Linked DNA regions of Homo sapiens: region 2 is linked to region 1. A link means that fine-mapping ties the variant in region 1 to the expression of a gene that starts in the linked region. Tissue or cell type: whole blood. Region 1 holds a variant in brackets; the other region holds the start of a gene. All regions are shown on one strand. Distances are between the middles of the regions.

Region 1 (8,393 bases):
ATTAATTTTGGGGTAATATTTGTTAGCATCAGATGTTAAGGGCATAGTATTTGATCCCAAGTAGTCAGACTTTCCAATCATCCATGTACCTCTCTGAACACATTCTGATATACAGATTTGGCCCCTTTAATTGGAATATTTAGCCTTCTACTAAAGTAAGTTCAAGGGTAGAAGGTCATCTTTGTTTTCCATGGCAGAGGAAAGGCATGATTCCTTTTTTGGTGGTTGCAAATTTCCAGATCTTGTTGTAAGTATTACAGTGCTTATTTAGTGTAAGGTCACCAAATTTCTATACATGATGCTGACCAAACACTAATTAATCCTATATCCATACAAAATCCTTTTTCAAAAAAGATGTTACCTGTTATTTATTCCTTAAAATAAAAATGTTTTCAAAATTAAGACATAATTAGAAATTAATAGGACAGGCAAAAAGCCAGGGTAGGGGTTGAGTTCCAGAAGTAGAAACTGAGATTGTCCTGAAAACTTTACATATTATAAAGAGGGATGTGAGGCATGGTCAGAATCTGGTGGATGGTCAGGAATCTGAAATTGCACATTATCTTACACATAATACATGCTTAATGAATGAATAGAGGAGGAAGAGCAAAGCAAGAGCGAGGTATGGGACCCAGGCATACTTTTAAGTATAACACATTTTCCAGAATGCTTTGAAATGGAGACATTCTTTACTTTCACTAGAAAGCCTCTTATCTACTGTCTGTTAGAATAGAGATCATCAAAGTGCAGATACAGCTTAGGGTAAAGAGAATCACTCTAAAGCAGTGGTTCTCAACCTGGCTGCACATTAAAATCACCTGGGATGTTTTAAGTCTCAGCTCCCAGGCTTCACCCCAGGTTATTATATGAAAATCTGGGGTTGAAACTCAGGCATCAGTGTATTTCAAAGCTCACCATGTGATTCCAAGGTATGTGCATATTTGAGAGCCTTTGCCTTAAAAGAAGGAGCAGGTGACTCATACTAGCAAGATAGTGAACAGATCACCAGGCCAGCCTTGTGGGTAGAAATAATCGTGACACTCTGACACTGTTCTCTACTAAGTTAATCAACATGTTTACCCCATGTACTACATAAAAATTACTTAATCAGCCCGGGCGCGGTGGCTCATGCCTGTAATCCCTGCACTTTGGGAGGCCGAGGCAGGCGGATCATGGGGTCAGGAGATCGAAACCATCCTGGCTAACACGGTGAAATCCCGTCTCTACTAAAAAAAAAAAAATACAAAAAATTAGCTGGGCCTAGTGGCGGGCGCCTGTAGTCCCAGCTAGTCGGGAGGCTGAGGCAGGAGAATGGCATGAACCCGGGAGGCGGAGCTTGCAGTGAGCCGAGATTGCGCCACTGCACTCCAGTTTGGGGGACAGAACCAGACTCATCTCAAAAAAAAAAAAAAAAAAAAAAGAATTACTTAATCTTAGTCATGCTACAATTTCCTCTCTATACCAGTAAGTTGGACACAAATTACATGATAAACAGGAATCTAGCAATTATTCAGTTAACAGTGTAATTTATTGGGTAAGTCTCTGGTTAAGAGAACTTTGAATTTCAATTCATCCATCTAAATTCCATTTCAAGTTGTGCTTATTTCCAAATGCAGATTAAGGTAATTTTTAGTTGTTATTGAAATAAATTTAGTGGTCTTTCAAACACATATATTTAAGAAAAGTATTTTTGGCTAAGAAAAAAAAAGAAGTTCCCCACCCGGCCGGCTGCCCTGTCCAGGAGGGAGGTGGGGGGCGCCTCCGCCCGGCCAGCCACCCCGTCCGGGAGGTGGGGGGCGCTTCTGCCCGGCCGCCCCTTCTGGGAAGTGAGGAGCCCCTCTGCCCGGCCACCACCCCGTCTGGGAGGTGTACCCAACAGCTCATTGAGAACGGGCCATGATGACAATGGCGGTTTTGTGGAATAGAAAAGGGGAAAAGGTGGGGAAAAGATTGAGAAATCGGATGGTTGCTGTGTCTGTGTAGAAAGAAGTGGACATGGGAGACTTTTCATTTTGTTCTGTACTAAGAAAAATTCTTCTGCCTTGGAAAAAAAAAGAAAAGTTGAGTTGAAACTCCCAACTATAACTTGTAGTCCACAAGTATATTTTCATATTTAGTTTTTAAGGCATAATCATGTTATTTGAAAAATATATGTCAAACATCACATATGTGAGTATATCTCCTGTGAAGCCAGAGCTCAGTACATAAGTTCCTGAGCAGGAAGATGAAACAGGAAATGCAACAAAGATGACAGAGAGCATAGTGATACCATCTGAAAATGATAAACCTATGTTTTCGCAGTATGGGCACTGCAATTAGTCCTGCTAATAGAAGGGAGAAGTAGCTTACAGAATGCAAAATAAGTTATAATTCTTTAAATACTGGGGCATGCACTCTCTTTTCATACATTTTTATTTTAGAAAACAGTTTTTGTTCAGTCAATGGTGCAATGAATGAGTCTGCCCCTTCAGTACTCACTGAAGGTGGTGGCTAGGTGGAGACTGTGAGGTCTAGAAGAATGGGGTGGCTAGGGAAAACCAACTTCATTTTTTAAACTCATCTTGCAAGTAGATAAAGGAAAGAACACTAATAAAATTTGAGTAATATTAATGATCATTACTGAGAAGCATCGTCAGTGTTTTATCTATTATGCTTTTTTTTTTTCTTTTTGAGACAGAGTCTTGCTCTGTCCCCCAGGCTAGAGTACAGTGGCACGATCTCAGCTCACTGCAACCTCCGCCTCCCAGGTTCAAGCAATTCTCCTGCCTCAGCCTCCCAAGTAACTGAGATTACAGGCATGTGCCACCACACCTGGCTAATTTTTGTATTTTCAGTAGAGATGGGGTTTCACCATCTTGCCCAGGCTGGTCTTGAACTCCTTACCTTATGATCCACCCACCTTGGCCTCCCAAAGTGCTGGGATTACAGGTATTAGGTTTTAAAAGAAGCATGGTTAAAACTGTTAGCATAGAAGGTTAGAAATAGTTATAAACTCCGATACATTTTCTTTTTTATAACCCGAATGTCTAACATTTTATACAAGAAACAAGTAGCCATCTACTCTACGTGCCCAACATTAATGTGCCTGGCTAAGACCCCTGAGATAGAACAGAGGGATGTCGAATCTCACCTTTTCCAGGAAGGCTTCTCTGCTGCTAGCTCACTGATCTCCTGTTTTTTTCTGGAAGCCTGCAGGCCACACTACAAAATTAAGCTCTTTTAATATGTTTGCCCTTTATGGTTCTCTAATTGTATTGGGTGTATTAGGTTTGGCTCCTCAACTAGATTGGAAACTGCTCCAATGAGAATTAATTTTCATACTTCCTTTTCTCACTCTAAGGTCCTAGGTCAGCTTTTTTTAAAACACTTTTTCTTTTTTTTTTGCCTCGTGAGTTCCTCAGATGAAAGCAATGTTTGTTTTGTACACTGATTCTGCATCTACAACCTTCCTTGAAGCCCATCATTTATGGGAAGCTATAAGAGAACCTTTGGCTAAAATATCGCCAAATACTAAGAGATAGTCACTACAGAGCTGCTCTTTGATCATGAAATTAAAGGAAACTTACAAGCAGATTCATAAAAATTCAAGGAAATTCAGTCTCCCTGTTTGGCTAGATATGAAATAG[C/T]AAATGGGAAGTAGCAGGAAAAAGCAGAATAAGAACAGGCATGCTTAAGAAGGCTGTGCAGGAGGAAGTGGGGACTTCCTTGATTTGGGTTATTTCTCTTTCACTTTTTGTTTTAAAAACACAGTGAACTTTTTCACTCTTGTACTTTCTACTTTTAATGAAAGAGGGCCTTAACTCTTCAGAACATCAGTGTTCTGGAAGAAATAGCTTATTAATCAACTTACTTTTGATTAAAAAGAGAGTTTCCACCACATTTTAATGGAACGAGTAGATTGTATTGAAACTCAAGAAAAGAAGGGAGCATTTGTCTTTACAATTTAAACCCAATCCCAGGTGAATATTTACTACAGTAAAAACAATCTGCTAAAATAGGACAATGAAAAAATTAATCTAGACTTCACTTAAGGAGTTTTTATCAAACCAGTTAACCTGGAGAGCAAAGAGACAACAAAGCTTATAGAAGAATTCTAGGTTATATATTACCTTGCTTTGTTTTTTGTAATTTTGTCCATTATTTGTATCACACCCTCTCTTTGGGTCTTTGGGGATGCATGAACTCCATGGGTCTATTGGGTCCTGCTGTTTTCTTCTCGTGATTTCTCACATCATTTGTCCTTGCATTTGTTTCACAGAAGCAGAATTCTAAGTCATAATCCCTTTGCTTCAGTGAGTCTCCAAGACAAGATTTAACTGACACACACTCTCATGGGGTTGCTTATTGCTTTTGCCATTTGTTTAATGATAATTTGATCTTTAATGAATAAAATAAAGAAAAGGTCCCACATCAAAAGGGATCTATTTCTCATTTTTTCTCCTTCCTTCCTTCCTTCCTTTTTTCTTTCCTACTTTTTTTTAATTATACTTTAAATTTTACGGTATATGTGCACAATGTGCAGGTTTGTTACATATGTATACATGTGCCATGTTGGTGTGCTGCACCCAGTAACTCGTCATTTACATTAGGTATATCTCCTAATGCTATCCCTGCCCCCTACCCCCACCCCACGACATGCCCCGGTGTGTGATGTTACCCTTCCTGTGACCATGTGTTCTCATTGTTCAATTCCCACCTATGAGTGAGAACATGCGGTGTTTGCTTTTTTGTCCTTGTGATAGCTTGCTGAGAATGATGGTTTCCAGCTTCATTCGTGTCTCTACAAATGAAATGAACTCATCATTTTTTATGGCTGCATAGTATTCCATGGTATATATGTGCCACATTTTCTTAATCCAGTCTATCATTGATGGACATTTGGGTTGGTTCCAAGTCTTTGCTATTGTGAATAGTGCCACAATAAACATATGTGTGCATGTGTCTTTATAGCAGCATGATTTATAATCCTTTGGGTATATACCCAGTAATGGGATGGCTGGGTCAAATGGTATTTCTAGTTCTAGATCCCTGAGGAATCGCCACACTGTCTTCCAGAGTGGTTGAACTAGTTTACAGTCCCACCAACAGTGTAAAAGTGTTCCTATTTCTCCACATCCTCTCCAGCACCTGTTGTTTCCTGACTTTTTAATGATCACCATTTGAACTGGTGTGAGATGGTATCTCATTGTGGTTTTGATTTGCATTTCTCTGATGGCCAGTGATGATGAGCATTTTTTCATGTGTCTGTTGGCTGCATAAATGTCTTCTTTTGAGAAGTGTCTGTCCATATCCTTTGCCCACTTTTTGATGGGGTTGTTTTTTTCTTGTAAATTTGTTTGAGTTCTTTGTAGATTCTGGATATTAGCCCTTTGTCAGATGAGTAGATTGCAAAAATGTTCTCCCATTCTGTAGGTTGCCTGTTCACTCTGATGGCAGTTTCTTTTGCTGTGCAGAAGCTCTTTAGTTTAATTAGATCCCATTTGTCAATTCTGGCTTTTGTTACCATTGCTTTTGGTGTTTTAGACATGAAGTCCTTGCCCATGCCTATGTCCTGAATGGTATTGCCTAGGTTTTCTTCTAGGGCTTTTATGGTTTTAGGTCTAACACTTAAGTCTTTAATCCATCTTGAATTAATTTTTGTATAAGGTGTAAGGAAGGGATCCAGATTTAGCTTTGTACATATGGCTAGCCAGTTTTCCCAACACCATTTATTAAATAGGGAATCCTTTCACCATTTCTTGTTTTTGTCAGGTTTGTCAAAGATCAGATAGTTGTTTATATGTGGCATTATTTCTGAGGGCTTTGTTCTGTTCTATTGGTCTATATCTCTGTTTTGGTACCAGTACCATGCTGTTTTGGTGACTGTAGCCTTGTAGTATAGTTTGAAGTCAGGTAGCGTGATGCCTCCAGCTTTGTTCTTTTGGTTTAGGATTGACTTGGCAATGCGGGCTCTTTTTTGGTTCCATATGAACTTTAAAGTAGTTTTTTCCAGTTCTGTGAAGAAAGTCATTGGTAGCTGGATGGGGATGGCATTGAATATAAATTACCTTGGGCAGTATGGCCATTTTCACGATACTGATGCTTCCTACCCATGAGCATGGAATGTTCTTCCATTTGTTTGTGTCCTCTTTTATTTCATTGAGCAGTGGTTTGCAGTTCTCCTTGAAGAGGTCCTTCATATCCTTGTAAGTTGGATTCCTAGGTATTTTATTCTCTTTGAAGCAATTGTGAATGGGAGTTCACTCATGATTTGGCTCTCTGTTTGTCTGTTATTGGTGTATAAGAATGCTTGTGATTTTTGCACGTTGATTTTGTATCCTGAGATTTTGCTGAAGTTGCTTATCAGCTTAAGGAGATTTTGGGTTAAGATGATGGGGTTTTCTAGATATACAATCATGTCGTCTGCAAACAGGGACAATTTGACTTCCTCTTTTCCTAATTGAATACCCTTTATTTCTTTCTCCTGCCTGATTGCTCTGGCCAGAACTTCCAACACTATGTTGAATAGGAATGGTGAGAGAGGGCATCCCTGTCTTGTGCCAGTTTTCAAAGGGAATGCTTCCAGTTTTTGCCCATTCAGTATGATATTGACTGTGGGTTTGTCATAGATAGCTCTTATTATTTTTAGATACATCCCATCAATACCTAATTTATTGAGAGTTTTTTAGCATGAAGGGCTGTTGAATTTTGTCAAAGGCCTTCTCTGCATCTACTGAGATAATCATGTGGTTTTTGCCATTGATTCTGTTTATATGCTGGATTACGTTTATTGATTTGCATATCTTGAACCAGCCTTGCATCCCAGGGATGAAGCCCACTTGATCATGGTGGATAAGCTTTTTGATATGTTGCTGGATTCGGTTTGCCAGTATTTTATTGAGGATTTTTGCATCGATGTTCATCAGGGATATTGGTCTAAAATTCTCTTTTTTTTGTTGTGTCTCTGCCAGGCTTTGGTATCAGGATGATGTTGGTCTCATAAAATGATTTAGGGAGGATTCCCTCTCTTTCTATTGATTGGAATAGTTTCAGAAGGAATGGTACCAGTTCCTCCTTGTACCTCTGGTAGAATTTGGCTGTGAGTCCTTCTGGTCCTGGACTTTTTTTGGTTGGTAGGCTATTAATTACTGCCTCAATTTCGGAGCCTGTTATTGGTCTATTCAGGGATTCAACTTCTTCCTGGTTTAGTCTTGGGAGAGTGTATGTGTCCAAGAATTTACCCATTTCTTCTAGATTTTCTAGTTTATTTGCATAGAGGTGTTTATAGTATTCTCTGATGGTAGTTTGTATTTCTGTGGAATTGGTGGTGATATCCCCTTTGTCATTTTTTATTGCGTCTATTTGATTCTTCTCTCTTTTCTTCTTTATTAGTCTTGCTAGTGGTCTATCAATTTTGTTGATCTTTTCAAAAAACCAGCTCCTGGATTCATTGATTTTTTGAAGGGTTTTTTGTGTCGCTATTTCCTGCAGTTCTGCTCTGATCTTAGTTATTTCATGCCTTCTGCTAGCTTTTGAATGTGTTTGCTCTTGCTTCTCTAGTTCTTTTAATTGTGATGTTAGGGTGTCAATTTTAGATCTTTCCTGCATTCTCTTGTGGGCATTTAGTGCTGTAAATTTCCTTCTACACGCTGCTTTGAATGTGTCCCAGAGCTTCTTGTGTGTTGTGTATTTGTTCTCGTTGGTTTCAAAGAACATCTTTATTTCTGCCTTCATTTCATTATTTACCCAGTAGTCATTCAGGAGCAGGTTGTTCAGTTTCTATGCAGTTGAGCAGTTTTGAGTAAGTTTCTTAATCCTGAGTTCTAGATTGATTGCACTATGGTCTGAGAGACAGTTTGTTATAATTTCCGTTCTTTTACATTTGCTGAGGAGTGCTTTACTTCCAACTATGTGGTCAATTTTGGAATAGGTGTGGTGTGGTGCTGAAAAGAATGTATATTCTGTTGATTTGGGGTGGAGAGTCTGTAGATGTCTATTAGGACTGCTTGGTGCAGAGCTGAGTTCAATTCCTGGATATCCTTGTTAACTTTCTGTCTTGTTGATCTCTCTAATGTTGACAGTGGGGTATTAAAGTCTCCCATTATTATTGTGTGGGAGTCTAAGTCTCCTTGTAGGTCTCTAAGGACTTGCTTTATGAATCTGGGTGCTCCTGTATTGGGTGCATATATATTTAGGATAGTTAGCTCCTCTTGTTGAATTGATCCCTTTACCATTATGTAATTACCTTCTTTGTCTCTTTTGATCTTTGTTGGTTTAAAGTCTGTTTTATCAGAGACTAGGATTGCAACCCCTGCCTTTTTTTGTTTTCCATTTTCTTGGTAGATCTTCCTCCATCCCTTTACTTTGAGCCTATGTGTGTCTCTGCACATGAGATGGGTCTCCTGAATACAGCA
Region 2 (8,393 bases), 55 kb before region 1:
TTCACTCTTTTGTTTATTTGTTTTTAAATTTTATTTTAAGTTCTTTCTGGGATACATGTGCGGGATGTGCAGGTTTGTTACACAGGTAAATGCATGCCATGGTGGCTTACTGCACCTCTCAACCCATCACCTAGGTATCAGGCCCCACATGCATTAGCTATTTATCATGATGCTCTCTCTCCCCCTGCCCTGCAACAGGCCCCAGTGTGTGTCGTTCCCCTCCCTGTGTTTGTGCTGGATTTCTATAAATATCCAACAGTCTATGTGGATGAAGTTTAGGAAGAAGGGAAGAAAGACTGTTTCATGATTATTTTTTGCTGCACCACCATTTGTTGCCATATTAGAGGTGACATCCCAGCTGGGATTATCCCTGGCTTGGAAAGACTGAGTTAGGCATTGGTCACAGGCAGCATGTGAATTTGGTGGCATTTCACCTGCACTTAGAAGCAAAGTCATCCACTGCTCTGACCAACTCACAAGGCGCAGGCTGCAGCAACGTGATTAACAAGGTTATGTATTGAATTTATATAGCTAAATGATTTTCCTGGTTTCTTATCTGTTTAGAGAGGCTGATTAGCAGAGGTAGAAAAACAAGACAACCACTGAGCTTTCCAAATTTATCAGAGAAACCCCAGACCAGCTTCTGATGGGGAAATATTCCTTGACTTCCAGAGCTTCCCACTGGATTTTCATTCCTGCCCAAAGACATTCTTGGTTTATTCCTAGTGACCAATAGAGAGCATTCCAACAATCACTTCTTATCAGTCAGCAACTATATAATAAACACCTGGGACATGCTTGGCCCTGGGCTTTGGTAAAAAGAAAGGAGACAAATGGGCCTTAAAGGTAGAACAATTTCAATTAGAAGCCTGTACAAGGTTTAGAACACAACGTTTGAGAAAGGAAAAAATCCTTAAACATTAGCGAACCAAGGTCCTTCATTTTACAAAAAAGAAACTGCGTAAGGGATCTGTCCAGGTTCACACAGTTGGGCTAAAATCTGGGTCTCTCCCTTGCTCATCCTCTGAGCTTTCCACTGCGCTATGCTGTCTGACCTGTGGGGTGCCAGCTTCTGCAGCAGCTTGCTCTTAAAAAACAGTCACAACAAGAACAGAGGGCAACCCCGATTGCCTTCTGGGCCAGGTGCTGTGCTAGGAGCTTTTCAGGGATCACCTCAAAACAGGTCAATGGAGACGTTACTGTTATCCCCATTTGACAGATAAAGAAACTGAGTCATGGAACCATTTAGGAACTCACCCAAGGCCCACAGCTGGTGCGTGGCAGAGACCACCTTCAAGCTCAGGATCTTGATTCTGGAGTCACAGTCTTAACCGCAACCCCTGGAACCACAGCCCAAACCCGCCAGCGAGCCACGGTTCACTCTCTTCACTTTCTTGTTTTTAGAAATGTTCCTGTAGAGCAGCCTCTAGTAACACCTCAGACAAATGAAATATCATTTCTACATCCCTGATCTCTCTCTCTTGTTAACGTATTGTGTAAATGGTGGAAAATGTGGTTTTTAAAGCACATTGAGGCTGGTAAAAGCTTCAAAGCCACCGCCTGCACTTACTCTTTAGACCACTAGATGTCAGTGTGATTGCTCTATGAAGCAGCCGTAACTTGGCAAGGTGCAGCATTGCACCAGAAATCAGCTGCTGCGAGCTTCCAAGCCTCTGGACTCCAGCAGAAGCTGGGGGGAATTTGAAGCCCAATGGTAGTAAACAAATAATGGACATGACAGTCAGGCAGTGTGGATTTCAACCTTTACAATAATTTCTCAAGGGAAATGGAAACCTTTTTAGCCTTTCCTTTTTGAAACGGATGGTCAACTTTTCCACGGGGTGCCTTAAGTGCACCATAACGCCTTTGATATTCAGGATCGCCTTTAATGGTACATCATAAAACATGTGGTTTTATTGGAAAGAGCACCCTTATCCTCCTCCCCCTCACCTATCACTTATGATTAATTTCTTAAGGTATCGGACTATTTGAAGTGTGTGTATCTCACATTGCATGGGGACGTTTTACTCTACCTAAAACCTCCGGTGGCATTCCCATAGCATGGGCAGAAAATCACAGCCACAACTTCACCCTTCCGGTGATAAGCCCATCTGTTTCCCACGCAGAATTATTTGTATTTAATGAAAAAATATTTAAAATGGTGAATATTAATTATTATTTTACATTAGTACTCAAAAAGTGTATATAGTTTTATCCCCTCAACAACTCCATGAGATGAGTTCTATTATTATCCCCATGTTTAGATGAGAAAACTGAGACACAGAGAGGTTAAGTGGCTCTCCCAAAGTCACACAGCTAATAGAAGGCAGAGTCAGAGGCCCATTTCTATTAATTACTTCCCTGCAAATCAAGTTAAATGGGGGGAAAAGACCTTGTGAATTTTTCAGAAGAATCAGCAATGTATACAAGACAGCCAAAGGCTCCGAGGAAAATTTGGAGTTGCTGGTTGCTTTGAAAGGCCTCCTTGGCTGATCTGCAGCTGTTTGTCATCATTTATCCAGTTTGCCAGGATTCCTTCTGAGAAGGCATAATTCATGGCAGTATAGTCCCTTTCTTTAGTCTATGTAGAAATCTCATGTGAATCCTCACCTCCTGCCAGGTTTGGAGGAAATTGAAAGTTACTCTTTCTCATCAAAAGGATGGACACATATTTGTTAGGAACCAGGATGAAATAAACCATCTGTGCCCAGCTCTGTTGGCAATAAAACCTTGTTTCTGGTTTCACTGCAAGACGTTATTTAACGCTAGTGGCACCAGAGGTTCCAACAAGAACACATGAGAGGCCTTATCCAGTTACGAAAGAGCAAGTGACAGACACGTTCCCGGCCACATTTTTATCTGCTTATCATCCTTTTGGCTACCATGAGGCTGAGTTTTAGTGTCTCCTGTTCATCTCTTTTGCTATTTTCCAACAGAACATGCGTTTCCTTCAGTTATTCAGCTAGCACAGTCTGTGCTGCCAGAATTTGGAAGTGGTGCTTTTTTCCTGCTATAAAAAATTACACATTTATTTGAAAGAAGAAACCTAGGCATAGCTGTTACCTGACTCCTGCAGAAGAAGGCGGAAGGATGGCCTCCTTTAGTGGATCTTCCTGGGCCAGGGTCTGGGCCCTACTCACTTCTAGCTGTCGCATCTGCTCTGCATGTGGAACTCAAGAACTGCGGAGCTTTCTGATGCCTGGCAGGGTTTTGTCCCGGTCAGTGGTTGAGTGAGCCACACCTCCCTCCCCTGACCAGGCAAACTTAGACAAGAAAAGTTCTATTATGCCCTCAGGATATTGAGTAATAAGGAGGAGAAAGGGGAACTTAAAAGTGTCTGTTCAGCCTGGATACTTCTGCTAACATTCCCACCAAGCATGTGATATTTAAAAGGGTAAAACCAAAACAAGATTCTCCTGCCTGCCACCATGTTTATTCAAGAGGAAGAAGCTGTAAGTTCTTTGGACCCATAATCTTTCCACACACCCAGGAGTGTCACCTGCAATGGGGGCCAAAGGGGGATGCTTACAATTAGAAAGGTCCACTGGAGCATGTGGAATATTTGGAAGCTAATTGCACCTGAGGTCAGGAGGTAAAGTGGTGTGCTTGACCATATCAACTGAAGAGTGGTCACTCATGTGTGGAAAGCCCACTAGACTCACTCTGTCGGCTCTCTGTTAGACTATTCTTGAGGCTGGAAGAAATGGAGTATTTAGATGATAATCCATGTGAAAAGACCACCAGTGGGGCTGAGTGTAGTGGGTCATGCCTGTAATCCCGGTACTTTGGAAGGCTGAGGCAGGAGGATTGCTTGAGACCAGGAGTTCAAGACCAGTCTTGACAACATGGTGAGACCCTGTCTCTACAAAAATAAAAAAAAAATTAGCCAAGTGTGATGGTGCATGCCTGTAGCCCCAGACATTTGGGAAGCTGAGGTGGGAGGATTTCTTGAGCACAGGAGTTCAAGGCTTCAGTGAGCTATGATTGCACCACCATTGCACTCCAGCCTGGGTAACAGAGCAAGATCCTGTCTGAAGGAAAAAAAAAAAAGAAGAAAGAAAGAAAGAAAAATAAAGAGAAGGAAAGAAAGAAAGAAACTCAAAAAAGAAAAGAGAAAAAAAGAAAAGAAAAGACAAGAAAAGAAAAGAAACCCCCCAAAACAGAGGCTACCATTGGGACTAAATGAGATTTTAACAAATTGTGATTGTGAAATTAACCTCCCCCACCTTCCTTCTACTCATTCATTCATAAACATCAAACACTTACTGTGTGGGTCAAGCACTGGCCAAGACTAGAAAGATGGAGAAGACAAGGATTTTCCACTCAGTGGCTTATAATCTTACAGACGTTATGCCAGAGATGGTCACTTTCCTCCCCGTATGATTTTCCCTTCTTATAGAGTAGTAGGGTCAGCAAACTATGGCCCGCATGCCAAATCTGGCCTGTGGAATGTTTTGTACAGACCTCAGGCTAAGAATTTACATTTTTTAAGAATTGTAAGAAAAGGGAGAAGAAGCAAAAGAAGACAATGATGGTAACAATGATGATGACAACAATGATGATGACATGGCTGAGACCGTATATGGCCTGAAATATTTACTATCTAGTCCTCTGCAGAAAAAGTTTGCCAAAAGTTTAGGATGCTTATTCTATCCTAAGAGATCTCTGGCTTTTTACCTGGCCCACAGCTACACAGGATAAGGCATTTTCTAGTCCCTCTTGACATTAGATTTGGCCATGTGGTTAAGTTTTAGTCAATGGGATCTATGCAGAAGGGATCTATGTAGCTTCTTGGTGTGTCCTAAAAGAGGGCCCCATCATGCTTTCCCCTCCCAGCTGGCTGGGATGCTGTGGGGGCCTGAGCTCTTCTGATCCAGTGATGACTAAGGTAATACTCTAGGCATGACAGAGCCAGGAGATAGAAGGACCTGGCCCCCAACACAGGAGACAACCCCATCTTCACTGGATTTTGCTAGATGGTTATAAAGAAGGGAACAGGAGGACAGACATTTAACTTTTAAAAATCAGTGTTATGTTGTGTCTCTTTTGCTGCAACCAAACATGTATTATAACCACTATAGAGATAGACACTGTATAACTAACCATGACACACTGTGATGAGTATTAAGCTCAAAGTATGAATAAAGGCATCTGGAAATACCCAGGAATATGTAATTCCTTCTGCATGGGGGCAGAAGAGTTGAGGAAGACTTTACCTAACATGGGACAGTTGATCTTGGGCCATGAAGGAAGCCTAACTGGAATTTGGGATTACTTGTTTTTCTTCTCCTCTCTGCCAACCTCTCTCAGATGGCCAAAACAAAATAAAATAATCCACTGGGTGAGGTGGCTCACGCCTATAATCCCAGCACTTTGGGAGGCCTAGGAGGGTAGGTCACCTGAGGTCAGGAGTTCGAGACTAGCTTGGCCAGCATGGTGAAACCCTGTTTCTACTAAAAAATCCAAAAATTAGCTGGGCGTGGTGGTGGTGCATACCTGTAATTCCAGCTACTCAGGAGGCTGAGGCAGGAGAATTGCTGGAACAAAGGAGGCGGAGGTTGCAGTGAGCTGAGATTGCACCATTGCACTCCAGCCCGGGCCAACAAGAGCAAGACTCTGTCTCAAAAATAAAATAAAATAAAATAAAGTAAAATAAAATAAAATAAAATAAAATGAAATAATCCTCCAAAAGCAAGCAACACGCCCTGTCTTCATGGAATGTACTGCCCCCTCTCCTTTTTCACCTGGCTAACTCCTGCTTATGCTCCAAAACCCAGTGTAGATATGATCTCCTTTTGAACTTTGTCCCACAAGACTGGGTAAGGCCTTCTGAGCTCTGGCGTCTTGTACTCTCTCTTAGTTGTTGGAGATATGTCTGTGTTTCTCACTAGATCATGAGTTCCTTAAGGGTTGGCGGTAACTGTGGCTTATTTGTCCTGGATTTCCAGCTTGTAGTACATTGCCAGGCATACAGAAGGCACTTTATAAACATTAATTAATGTATTAGAGGCCAAGGGCAGCTTCCTGGTTTGTGGGACTCTTGCTCTTTTTTAATGCATTTGTCCCACTAAAGGGAAGGTGAGCCCAGCAATTTATATCTCTCAGCCTCTGTGTCCTAAAAGTATATACATTTTTAAAAGTTTGCTTTCCAAAAAGGCAGAAAAGAAATGTACACATTTAGAAAGTTTTAGTTTAAAAAACTGAAAGTTTCATTTGTTATGAATGGTCTCTATGCTTAGTAGTGTCTGAAAGGTTTGAAGATTTAATAAAAACAACTAAAATGCTATGAGGTGAGTTTAGTAACATGATGGTATGTTTCCGAAATAAGCGGAAGTATAGATACTTGCTCAAATTTATCTTATTTTGAGCTTTTCTTATTATTACATAATAATAAACACCCATTTTTCTATTTTTATAAAATCTTTGCTCACAAAGGAAAATTTGTGCAGTAATATTATTTGATTACAACAAGATGATGATGCTGATAATTACATTTGATTCTCCCCTTGTCACTCTGTGTTATGTGTCTTATAATCAATAAAAGAGGGAGAGGAACAACAAACACTGAGGCCTGTTGGGGGAGGGCAATGGAGGGGAGAGCATCAGGAAAAATAGCTAATGCATGCCAGGCTTAATACCCAGGTGATGGGTTGATAAGTACAGCAAACCACCATGGCACACGTTAACCTATGTAACACACCTGCACATCCTGCACATGTACCCTGGAACTTAAAATAAAATAAAATAAAATTTAAAAATAAAAAATAAAAAAATAAAAGCAAAAGCATTGCTTTTCATGCAAACCTATTTTACTACATGCTTTGGCTACAGGCAACCAATTTTCTGAACTGGAGAATTAATGTAAGACTTTTAAGACACCGTATAGTAGTAGTATTTTCCCCTATCATTTAGAGGAAAATATAAAAATATGAGGAGCATATTTTCCTTTATGTATAGTCCTCCTTGAGATGGTGTTGACAGAAGGTGAAGTTGAAAAGAATTACTTGCATTATGTTTCTAAAGGAAACCAGTAATGTAATATTAAGTTATTATTTGAATATGAAGTTTTCATTATTTTTGTGGCTATTCACTAAAGGCCTTCATAAATTACAGGGAAACCTGAGCAATTAAATTTAAAAAAATCATTCAAATGCTTCTTAAATAAAGTTTTTGGTCTTAACATCTGCTACAGAATCAAGCTAACACCTCAGTGCTTCTGGATATTTATTAAATGTTTAGGGCTTCCATTCCCCCATGCAAGAGTAATTCTAAGCAAATGATGAATGTCTCAATGAGTAGCTCATTCTTTGTGGACGTAAAAACTAGGTTTCCACTTCTCTATCTGGTGCAGCTCTGTTGTGCAATACAAGGAGATAAAACCCTAGGTAAGAGAATTAGAGTGGGGGTGGGTGTAGTAGAGATGGAGAAGGTCAGCTTATTCTCAACTCACTACTCCCAGTATCAAATATCCATTTCAGATATAAGAATTTCTGTCTTTATACCCCAGCCCAAATTTTCTACTGTCCCTATCTCATCCCACACTCCCCTCTTCTCCAGGTGGAGAAACCCTATCCTGTGCTGTCTGCTCAGTATAATGATGACTTTGAGGTGTCAGCCTGTTCATGCCTATCACTTGTCAATGTGCTTGCTTCTCTGTCCTCTAAATTAAATACTGTACTTATTGTTGTACTTACTAGCAATTATATTTTTCCACAATTAAAAAAATGATGAAGTTAATATTCTCAAAGGAGTAAATAACACGAAACCGATGGCCATTCCAGCCATCTTTCAAGGAAAGGTGATCTGGTTCTGGTGGCCAAGCCAGCTCTGCTGTGCCAGATAAAAGCCTCCAGTGACTTACTCAGAAAACAAATCATGAATGTGTTTGAAAGTGAAATGATTTGGCCTCCAGTCAGCCTTTAGCACAGTCCTGACGGTTTCCCTTACTACAGGGATTAAGCGTCCTGTGAAAACAGATGGGGGAGGGCTGCCACCTTCTGCTTGCTCACCCAGGGAGTGGCCTCCCAAGCTTCGCCACTGCTCCAGACAGCAGCAGATGAAGCTCTGAGGAGTCCACGCCTTTCTGGAAGCTTGTTGTTGCCCTGCCAACATATATTGACTTGTCAAGAGCTCTGTCTTTAAGCCAATCACATCCTGATCACAGTTCATTAAAGGTGTGTATTCCTCTAGAGAGCTCATTGTCTGTTGTCAGAAATCACTCAGTGCCCAAACACATTAGGATGAGAATGGACTGTGTAGGAGAGAAGAAAAGAAATGGGTTCTGCTTATTTTCTTTGACTTTAACAGCTACTTCCCCTTACTCAACTCAACACTCATGTACACATATCAGAGAAGCATTACGATCTGCAAGCTGCAGGACTGGCTCCTATTTA

What was found. PIP is the estimated chance that this variant, and not a neighbour inherited with it, causes the effect.
Region 2: it holds the start of FYB1, and the variant in region 1 is fine-mapped to the expression of FYB1 in whole blood (TOPMed, PIP 0.92).

The regions. Positions count from the first base shown.
Region 1 is chr5:39,271,273-39,279,665 of GRCh38, forward strand. It overlaps a transcript of FYB1 not described here. Among named protein-coding and RNA genes, the nearest start is that of FYB1, 56 kb to the left of the region's middle. The variant C/T (reference allele first, on the strand shown) is at 3,627.
Region 2 is chr5:39,216,380-39,224,772 of GRCh38, forward strand. It overlaps FYB1 (FYN binding protein 1), which reads right to left and starts at 3,184. Exons shown (of 19, transcript NM_001465.6): 1 at 3,064-3,184. RefSeq lists an enhancer at 4,260-4,761.